3 separate regions of the Homo sapiens genome follow, and regions 1 and 2 are each linked to region 3. The links come from fine-mapping of genetic effects on gene expression. A gene starts in region 3. Each other region holds a variant in brackets. All regions are shown on one strand. Distances are between the middles of the regions. Region 1 overlaps RGS19 (regulator of G protein signaling 19). Region 2 overlaps PRPF6 (pre-mRNA processing factor 6). Region 3 holds the start of PRPF6 (pre-mRNA processing factor 6).

What was found. PIP is the estimated chance that this variant, and not a neighbour inherited with it, causes the effect.
Region 1: its variant is fine-mapped to the expression of PRPF6 in whole blood (TOPMed, PIP above 0.99).
Region 2: its variant is fine-mapped to the expression of PRPF6 in visceral fat (GTEx, PIP above 0.99). The same link has a PIP of 0.9 or more in tibial artery and unexposed skin.

Annotation. Positions count from the first base shown.
Region 1 is chr20:64,073,864-64,076,606 of GRCh38, forward strand. RGS19 (regulator of G protein signaling 19) reads right to left here. Exons shown (of 6, transcript NM_005873.3): 3 at 2,662-2,743; 4 at 604-678; 5 at 281-515; 6 at 1-181. Among named protein-coding and RNA genes, the nearest start is that of MIR6813, 1.8 kb to the right of the region's middle. The variant T/C (reference allele first, on the strand shown) is at 1,531.
Region 2 is chr20:64,029,260-64,032,013 of GRCh38, forward strand. PRPF6 (pre-mRNA processing factor 6) reads left to right here. Exons shown (of 21, transcript NM_012469.4): 19 at 118-232; 20 at 2,659-2,754. Among named protein-coding and RNA genes, the nearest start is that of C20orf204, 5.5 kb to the right of the region's middle. The variant T/C (reference allele first, on the strand shown) is at 1,416.
Region 3 is chr20:63,980,075-63,982,828 of GRCh38, forward strand. PRPF6 (pre-mRNA processing factor 6) reads left to right here and starts at 1,058. Exons shown (of 21, transcript NM_012469.4): 1 at 1,058-1,242. The coding sequence starts at 1,172. It also overlaps a transcript of SAMD10 not described here. RefSeq lists an enhancer at 113-172 and a silencer at 1,243-1,352.

The sequences.
Region 1 (2,743 bases), 94 kb after region 3:
AGGAGGACTGTGATGGCCCCTGCAGCAGCAGGGCACGGTAGGTGGGAGAGCTGAGGAAGCGGGGGTAGGAGTCCCGGTGCATGAGCGTGTAGATCTGCAGCTGCGCGTCGTCGAACGTGTGTGCGGACGGCTCCTGCATCTTCTTGTTGATGCCCTCCCGCACACGGGAGTCCAGGCTCACCTGCAGGACAAGACACTGAGGTCAGGGGGTGCGGGAGCTGCCTTCCCCACCTAGTGCCTGGAGCAGGCGGCCCCCGGCCTGTTCTGGTGTCTGGCGCACCTCCTTGGGGGACAGGATGGATACGTAGTCCTCGTAGATGAGCCTCGCCTTCTCGTCTACCACATGCTGGTTGGCCTCGGCCTTCAGCTCCTCGCAGGCCAACCAGAAGAGCATGTTCTCCTCGCTGTACTCTGTCCGCAGGAACGCCCGGAACACGCTGCGTCCCGCTGGGCTGTGCATCAGCTTGTCAAAAGACTGCGCCCAGCTCTGCACCTCCTCAGGACTTGGCGTGGCACTGTGGGCACGGGGGCCAGGCTATGTCAGGCCCGAGTCTCCCGGTCTGGGGCCCCCCCAGCACGCACACACCAGCCGGCTGGACTCACCATACTTCACAGCTGGGGAGGGGCTGCAGCTTGCTCTCCCGGGAGGCCTGCCACGCGCGCCGCCGCTCTTGGTTCCTAGTGGCAGAGAGGAAGCAGCGCTGCCGTGGGCACACACGCCTCCACGGCCACACAGGCCCTCAGCACATGGGCAGGCACCTGACACACATGGGCACCCACTGCAGGAGGGCAGCCCCTGCAGGCACCTGACACACATGGGCACCCACTGCAGGAGGGCAGCCCCTGGAGCTGGCTCTTCCCACACTCTCCCACACTCCCAAATTCCCCACAGAATCTGCAGTCCAGGTTACTGTCCCTGCCACAGTGCCCAGACCACAGACTCTGCCGTCTTCCATTCCAGCAGTGTGACCCAGTGCCCGCGAGTCTCTGGCCTTCCAGGAGGGGCCCTTCGGCTCCTGGTGTGCTCCTCCCCATCCCTGGCCCACTGGGCAACCTCCTCCACCCACCCATGCCCACCCCACATGAGGTTGAGAAGCAGGTATGCCACCTCCCCTTCTGCCTCTGCTCCCCTGGGGGAGATGGGGTGGGGCAAGATGAGGGGCCACAAGGAGCTGGGAGATCCCTGAACACCTGGGAGGCCAGAAGGGTCATGTGCCTGGGAACAGGGCCACCCATGGGAATGTGCCTGGGAACAGGGCCACCCATGGGAATGTGCCTGGGAACAGGGCCACCCATGGGAATGTGCCTGGGAACAGGGCCACCCTGCTCCTGGGCCTGATCTTGGCCTGTCCCTGTCCCACCGATGGGGTCACACGCTGCAGGTCTGGCGTGTCAGCAGTGTCTCTCGTCGGCTGACGCAGGTGAGAGCCCCAAACCCGTGTCCACACTCCTTCAGGTTCTGGAGCCTGATCCCCGGTTGTCTCAAGGGAAGCAGCTTCTTTGCCTTGGCTCCTAGCATCCTGTCAGTGC[T/C]GGACCCAAATCCATACCCGGCTGACCTCTCTCCAGGGCACTTGGATGGCTGGCAGACATCGTGCACCCAAACGTCCTGACAGAACTAGGCCCCTGGGCTCCTCCCACCCCCTTTCCCGACTGCCCCCTGGCCACCCCCAGCTTGCCCGTGGGTCAGCTGACGCCACCTTGGATCCAGAAGCGCTGTCCTCTCATCAGCCAGGGCCTGAAGCCTGAATAGGGCCAGGCTTCTGCAAGGTGTGAAAACATCCACCAGCTCCCCTACACTCCTAGGAAATCTGTTACCATCTGGGAGCCCCACTCCCACCCTCACAGGGATGCCCAGAGACGTCCCCGCCACCGCCCCCTGCTCTTCTTCCCCCACGCATGCTGTCCGGGAAGCTCTTGGCCATCGCCCCAGGGCCAGCAGTTCCCTTATTGGGGTCTCTGTTCAAACGTCCCTCCACCCCACACACTGTATGGGGTCTGTGCCTGTCTTTCTTTCTTTCTTTCTTTTTTTTTTTTTGAGACGGAGTTTTGCTCTTGTTGCCCAGGCTGGAGTGCAATGACGCGATCTCGGCTCAACGCAACCTCCGCCTCCCAGGTTCAAGCCATTCTCCTGCCTCAGCCTCCCGAGTAGCTGGGATTACAGGCATGCGCCACCACGCCTGGCTAATTTTGTATTTTTAGTAGAGACAGGGTTTCTGCACATTGGTCAGGCTGATCTCGAACTCCCGACCTCAGGTGATCCGCCCACCTTGCCCTCCCAAAGTGCTGGGACTACAGGCATGAGCCACTGCACCTGGCCTGTGCCTGTCTTACTCCACCGCAGGCCCCCAGGGCCTAGCCTGGGCTGGCTCACAGCAGCATGGATAAAGCACATGCCGCGTGAACGGGCACATGCATGTACACAGCACACGGACACACCCTTGGCAAGACAGGTACGAGAGCCATACATGAGCTCCCTGGGGCCAAGGCACCGGCCACTCATCACCAGGGCCCAACAGACCCTGGACAGGACAGTGCTGTGAGGTGGCAGGGGCATCCTGCCTGCGGGGATGCCTCGGAAGCCACCACTGGGTCCCCTCCTGGGTCTGCTTGGCCCCATGCCCTCGACCCCCTCGCCAGCTGGGCACCCCAGGCCCTACTCACCAGGAGCAGCTACAGCAGCAGCACCAGCACAGGCAGCAGGGGTTGCGGCTGGGGGCCGCTGGAGAGGCTGTATCATGACTGG
Region 2 (2,754 bases), 49 kb after region 3:
GTGTGGGAGGCCCCTGTCGTGGTCTGAGGACGTCCCGGGTTAGAATCTGTAGGCTGGGCACCTTTCCGGAACCAGAGGCTGGAGTGCAAATCTTTGTTCTTTGTTTCTGAATTATAGGTATCCTGTGGTCTGAGGCCATCTTCCTCGAGGCAAGGCCCCAGAGGAGGACCAAGAGCGTGGATGCCCTGAAGAAGTGTGAGCATGACCCCCATGTGCTCCTGGCCGTGGCCAAGTGAGTGGGGCCCCCACAGGATTGCTGAACCTCGGGGTCCTAATGGGCTCTTTTTCCAGAGTCTGTCTGCCTCTTCCTGGTCATTGTAAAGATGCCCGGCAGCAGGGTGGGCTTCCCCGATCCTCGGCTGCCGTCGCTCCTGCTGTGGTCTGGGGCAGGCGCCTCTCCTGGCAGACACACCTGAGGGTGCCGTGGTCAGAGACTCACTGGGGACGCATGTGATTCACACTGGTGCGCTGGCCGCCGGGTCACAGACTCACTGGGGACGCGTGTGATTCACACTGGTGCGCTGGCCGCCAGGTCAGAGACTCACCGGGGACGCATGTGATTCACACTGGTGCTCTGGTCGCCGGGTCAGAGACTCACTGGGGACGCATGTGATTCACACTGGTGCGCTGGCCGCCGGGTCAGAGACTCACTGGGGACACATGTGATTCACACTGGTGTGCTGGCCGCCGGGTCAGAGACTCACTGGGGACGCGTGTGATTCACACTGGTGCGCTGGCCGCTGGGTCAGAGACTCACTGGGGACGTGACTCTGGAACCTTGCAGGCAGCAGCGGGTAGCCATGGGGCAGAGCATGCAGACTCTAGGCACATGTGGGCAAAGACCCGCCAGGTGTGGGGCACAGCAGGGAGCTCAGGGCCATCCCCGACCCCCAGGGTCCCTGTTTCCTTCTAGAAAGAGGATGACAGTCTGGGAAGGAGCTGGGCCTGAGTGTGGGTCAGGAGGCTGGGAAGTGACCATGTGGGGTGAAGGGAGTTCTTGGAAGAACCCTGGGTTCCTGAGGCTGCAGCTCAGGACGTGGGCTCACCTGGCAGAGGTGGCGTGTCTGGCCCCAGGAGCTCTCCTGTGTCCGGCTTCCCCTCCACCTGCCCCGCCATGGGTCATGCAGAGACAACAGCCTTCCTAGTGCTGGCTTTTGATTCTCTCCATCCCTTCTCCCCAGCACTGGGTGGCAGTGGTGCTTGGTCTCCAGAGGTCTGGGTGCCGCCCCCACAGGCTTGCCTGTAGGGGCACCTCCTCTCCCCTGCCCGCAGGCCCCCGACAGATGAGAGAGGCTCCCCACAGGGAGGCTTGTGTCTGCCTGGTGCTACCTTGGTCCTGCCCTGTGCGTTCACCTCCCAGAGTGACTTCTGGGTGACACTCTGATAGTGCAGCCATAAAACCTTATAAAAGGCTT[T/C]GCTAAAGTAAATAAGTCACTCCTTGCTATTCCCAAGCCAGTGTTTTGTGTGTCTGCTATCTGGGTTTGTGCTCTTTAAATCACAGTTTATCTAACACCGGGCAATTAAGAATACCACAAGGCTTAAAAAACAATCAGGTTATCAGAGTGTGAAATTATTCCGTTTGGCAACTGAGACGAACCCGAACAGCTGCCCGGAGTGGAGGCTCCTCGTGTTGTCTCTTGACTACGGTGCCTCTGGCTCCAGGGGGAGGTGACCCTGAGGAGAGGGTGGCAGCAACGCAGAGTCCCGGGCCTGCCAGCATGCTCAGCAGCCAGCGCCCGCCATCCCTTCTCCAGCAGCGGGTGGGGGTGCCATGCACACCCTTACCTGGCCTCTCATAGCATGGACCTCTTCGGGCCCGGTTTTTCAGGTGTGCATGTGTCTGGCAGGCACGGCGGTGTGAATCCAGTGGCCTGAGGGCTGTGGGCTGCAGGCCCAGGCCCTTGTGCTGCCTGGAGCCCATCTTCTCAGTGTTCACTGGGGTTGCTGCTGGAGGCCGGGTGGGGCAGGATGATCCAGCAGGTGTCTCAGTGAGGAGCTGAAACTGTATAACTTTCCCTCATCAAAGTTGCAGTTTAATTTTGTGTCAGGTTTAGTTTCATCTCCTTGTATCTGACCCTAATTTTACGGAGTTGGAAGATCTTTCCCTGCGTGTGAATTTTTTAAGAAACAGTTTGGGACAGGTGCGGTGGCTCATGCCTATAATCCCAGCACTGGGAGGCTGAGGCAGGTGGATCATGAGGTCAGGAGTTTGAGACCACCCTGACCAACACAGTGAAACCCCATCTCTACTAAAAATACAAAAATTAGCCGGGTGTGGTGGCGCATGCCTGTAATCCCAGCTACTCAGGAGGCTGAGGCAGGAGAATCGCTTGAACCTGGGAGGCAGAGCTTGCAGTGAGTCGAGATCGCGCCACTGCACTCCAGCCTGGGCGACAGAGCGAGACTCCTTCTCAAAAAAAAAAAAAAAAAAACAACAAAAAAAAACCAATTTGGTTAGACCCGTGAAGGGCAGCTTCAAGTTAATGATCTGGGGTAATTATTTCTGGATCAGCCGAGGCCCTGATCCTCAGGCCTTCTTGAGGGGAGCACCAGGGCTGCGGGTCAGGGATGAAGCTGATGGCCCTGAAGCCGTTCCCCTGCCCCAGAATACCGTCCTGCAGCCACTCACTCTGGGTTCACGTCCTTCTGCTGGAACAGGCTGTTTTGGAGTCAGCGGAAGATCACCAAGGCCAGGGAGTGGTTCCACCGCACTGTGAAGATTGACTCGGACCTGGGGGATGCCTGGGCCTTCTT
Region 3 (2,754 bases):
ACTGAAAGGGGCTTGGCTTGCCTGGAGATGGGGCAGAGGGGAACTCCAAGGAGGCTGTAGCAGGCCGGAGCGGTGTGTTTGCTCCAGGACTCCAGTGAGAAGTGCTGAGATGGGGCTGGGCTAGGGAACTGTGGTTGCCTGGTGCAGCAGCAGGCCAGGCTTGCAACCAGCTATTCGGCTTGCTCTGCCCAGGAGCCTGGGTGCTCTCCCTGGGTGTATGTAGGGGCTCTGGAGGATGTCTTACAGCAGGAGGACCAGAGATGCACACAGACATGTAGAAATGCATGCACAGAGTACAGTCATGCACTTGCACCCAAAACACGAGCACACGTGACCTCTGTGCACACACCCCACTAATCACACACACAGAATTCACCCACATGCTTGACAGCCATGTTCATGTACTGACGTGTTCCCGACAGCTCAGCTGCGGTTATTTATTTCGTCAATTAGCTCTCCAGGAGCTAAGGATGTGGCCCTCACCAGAATGTCCAAGGCATGTTGGCGGGCGTGGGTGGGGTCTCTAGTCCCACTGGAGGGACAGATGCCTGAATGGGGGTTCAAGAATATGAGTGCTAAAAGCGTAGGGCAGCAGTGTGCGCACAGGACGCACACAGACAGGTGTGCCCATAACCAGTACACACAAGCTCTACACAACTGGACAGGGTACAGCTCTGCTCGGACAGGGCGCACCAGGGGCGAGGGCGGGCAGCTGGGCTGGTTCAGAGGGAGGGGGCCATGGGTTCAGAGGGAGGGGACCATGGGTCCCACTCTCACAGACAGGTCTCCGGACTGCATCAGAGCACTCGGGAAGCAGCAATGCCCCAGGCTGTTTTTAGCCCCCAGGGGCCAGTTAGGGTCCCAGTGCAAGCTCGACCTAGCTTCTTCCGCCTCTCCACGAGGAGGCGCTCCCGCGCACGCGCCTACCACGTTCCTGCCCCCTAGCCGCGGCCGGAAGTCGTCGAACCAGGACGTCGGGACTTCCGCCCAGGGAATCAAAAGTGGGCGGGGCGTGTGCGGACTGAGCGCTCTGCTTCCGGGGCGCGGGTGACGCGACGACGGCGACACTTTGCTACGGAGTGCATCGGACGTCGAAGCCTAGAGTCTCTGCGTCTTTCCCTCTTCCGCTGCCTCATTCCTTTCCTTCCTAGCCTTGGTCGTCGCCGCCACCATGAACAAGAAGAAGAAACCGTTCCTAGGGATGCCCGCGCCCCTCGGCTACGTGCCGGGGCTGGGCCGGGGGTGAGGCCTGGGGCGGCGCGCGAGGGGCGGGGACCCGGCTACAGGAGCGCAGTGCTTTGGGGCGTGTTTGGGGGCGGGGGTCTATGGCCGCGCAGTCTGAAAGACGCTTGGTGGATCGGCTTAATCCCTGCAGGAAGCAACGGGCTTTGGGGTCAGGACATACCTGTGTGTGCACCCTGCTTGCCGCCTAGATGTGACACATTGACTCTCAGCCCAGTGTTTTGGTCTGTAAGATGGGTAATGCTGTATACGGTCTGCAGTGAGGAGTAGAGGAATCTGACGTGTAGTGGAAACACGCGACCACCTTCCTCAGGTCGGGCTGACACTCCCCCCCCCCGCCCGCCCGCCCGCCCCGCCTTAAGCGTGCCTGGGTCCTCTATGCCTGCAACACAGATGACCACCGTGCGTTGCTGGATAAGTGAGCAGTCGTTATTATCCTATTTGGCTATTCATTTGATGAGGAACACTACTGGGTTTTTCTTGGTGGTGGTATTATATTGGAATCTGTGGGGCACACACAAGCTCACTAAGGAGGGTTTGCTATTACCATAAATAAGTACGTAAAGAGGACCAGATTTAGAACCCAGTGCTTAATGGAGAGTAGCATTGGAGCCAAGTTTAGTAAGAGAGCTGGACTTAGGGCTGTAGAAACGGTGACGATAGAAGAGAAACTGACATTCTGCGTGTGGGAGTTCAAAAAAAGTGAGGCAAGGAGGAAGCCCAGGGAACAGGAGGGAGTCCAGTGTGAGTGGAATGTACAGCGAATAGAATAGAGCTCAGGAGGTTGGAGGGGCCTTGAGCGTCAGGCTAGAGCTCCTGGAGACGTTAGAAAGATCATGACCCTTCAGAATTATTATTATTATTATTATTTTTTGAGACAAAGTCTTGTTCTGTCGCCCAAGCTGGAGTGCAATGGTGCGATCTCAGCTCCCTGCAATCTCTGCCCCCCGGGTTCAAGCAGTTCTCTGCCTCAGCCTCCTGAGTAGCTGGGATTATAGGTGCCCGCTACCACGCCCGGCTAATTTTTGTATTTTTAGTAGAGACAGGGTTTCACCATGTTGGCCAGGGGGGTCTTGAACTCCTGACCTCATGATCCACCCGCCTCCGTCTCCCAAAGTGCTGGGATTACAGGCGTGAGCCACCACGCCCGGCCCAGAATTTTTTACTCAGAGCTGTGTTTTGGGAAGAATCATCTGGCAGAGCATGGGTTGAAGTAGAGGAAGGCTAAAGGCAGGGAGAGGTAACTTGGTTTCCAGCTGTGATGGGAGTCATAGTCTGGGAAGGAGGGATTTTGAAAGTGGATTCATTAGTACTTGGGGACAGACAGGATGGGGAAAGTGGGAGAGGGAGGCAAAAATTACATCATGGTCCCGTGGCATCTGGGACAGCTGTTATCAGCTGAAACCCCCCAGAGCAGCTGTAAGGTGGGCACGGAAGAGCTCAGTGTGGGCCAAGTTGGGTTTAAGGGCCTGGTTGGATGTGGAGGGGGAGATGATCGAAGCCTTAGGGTGG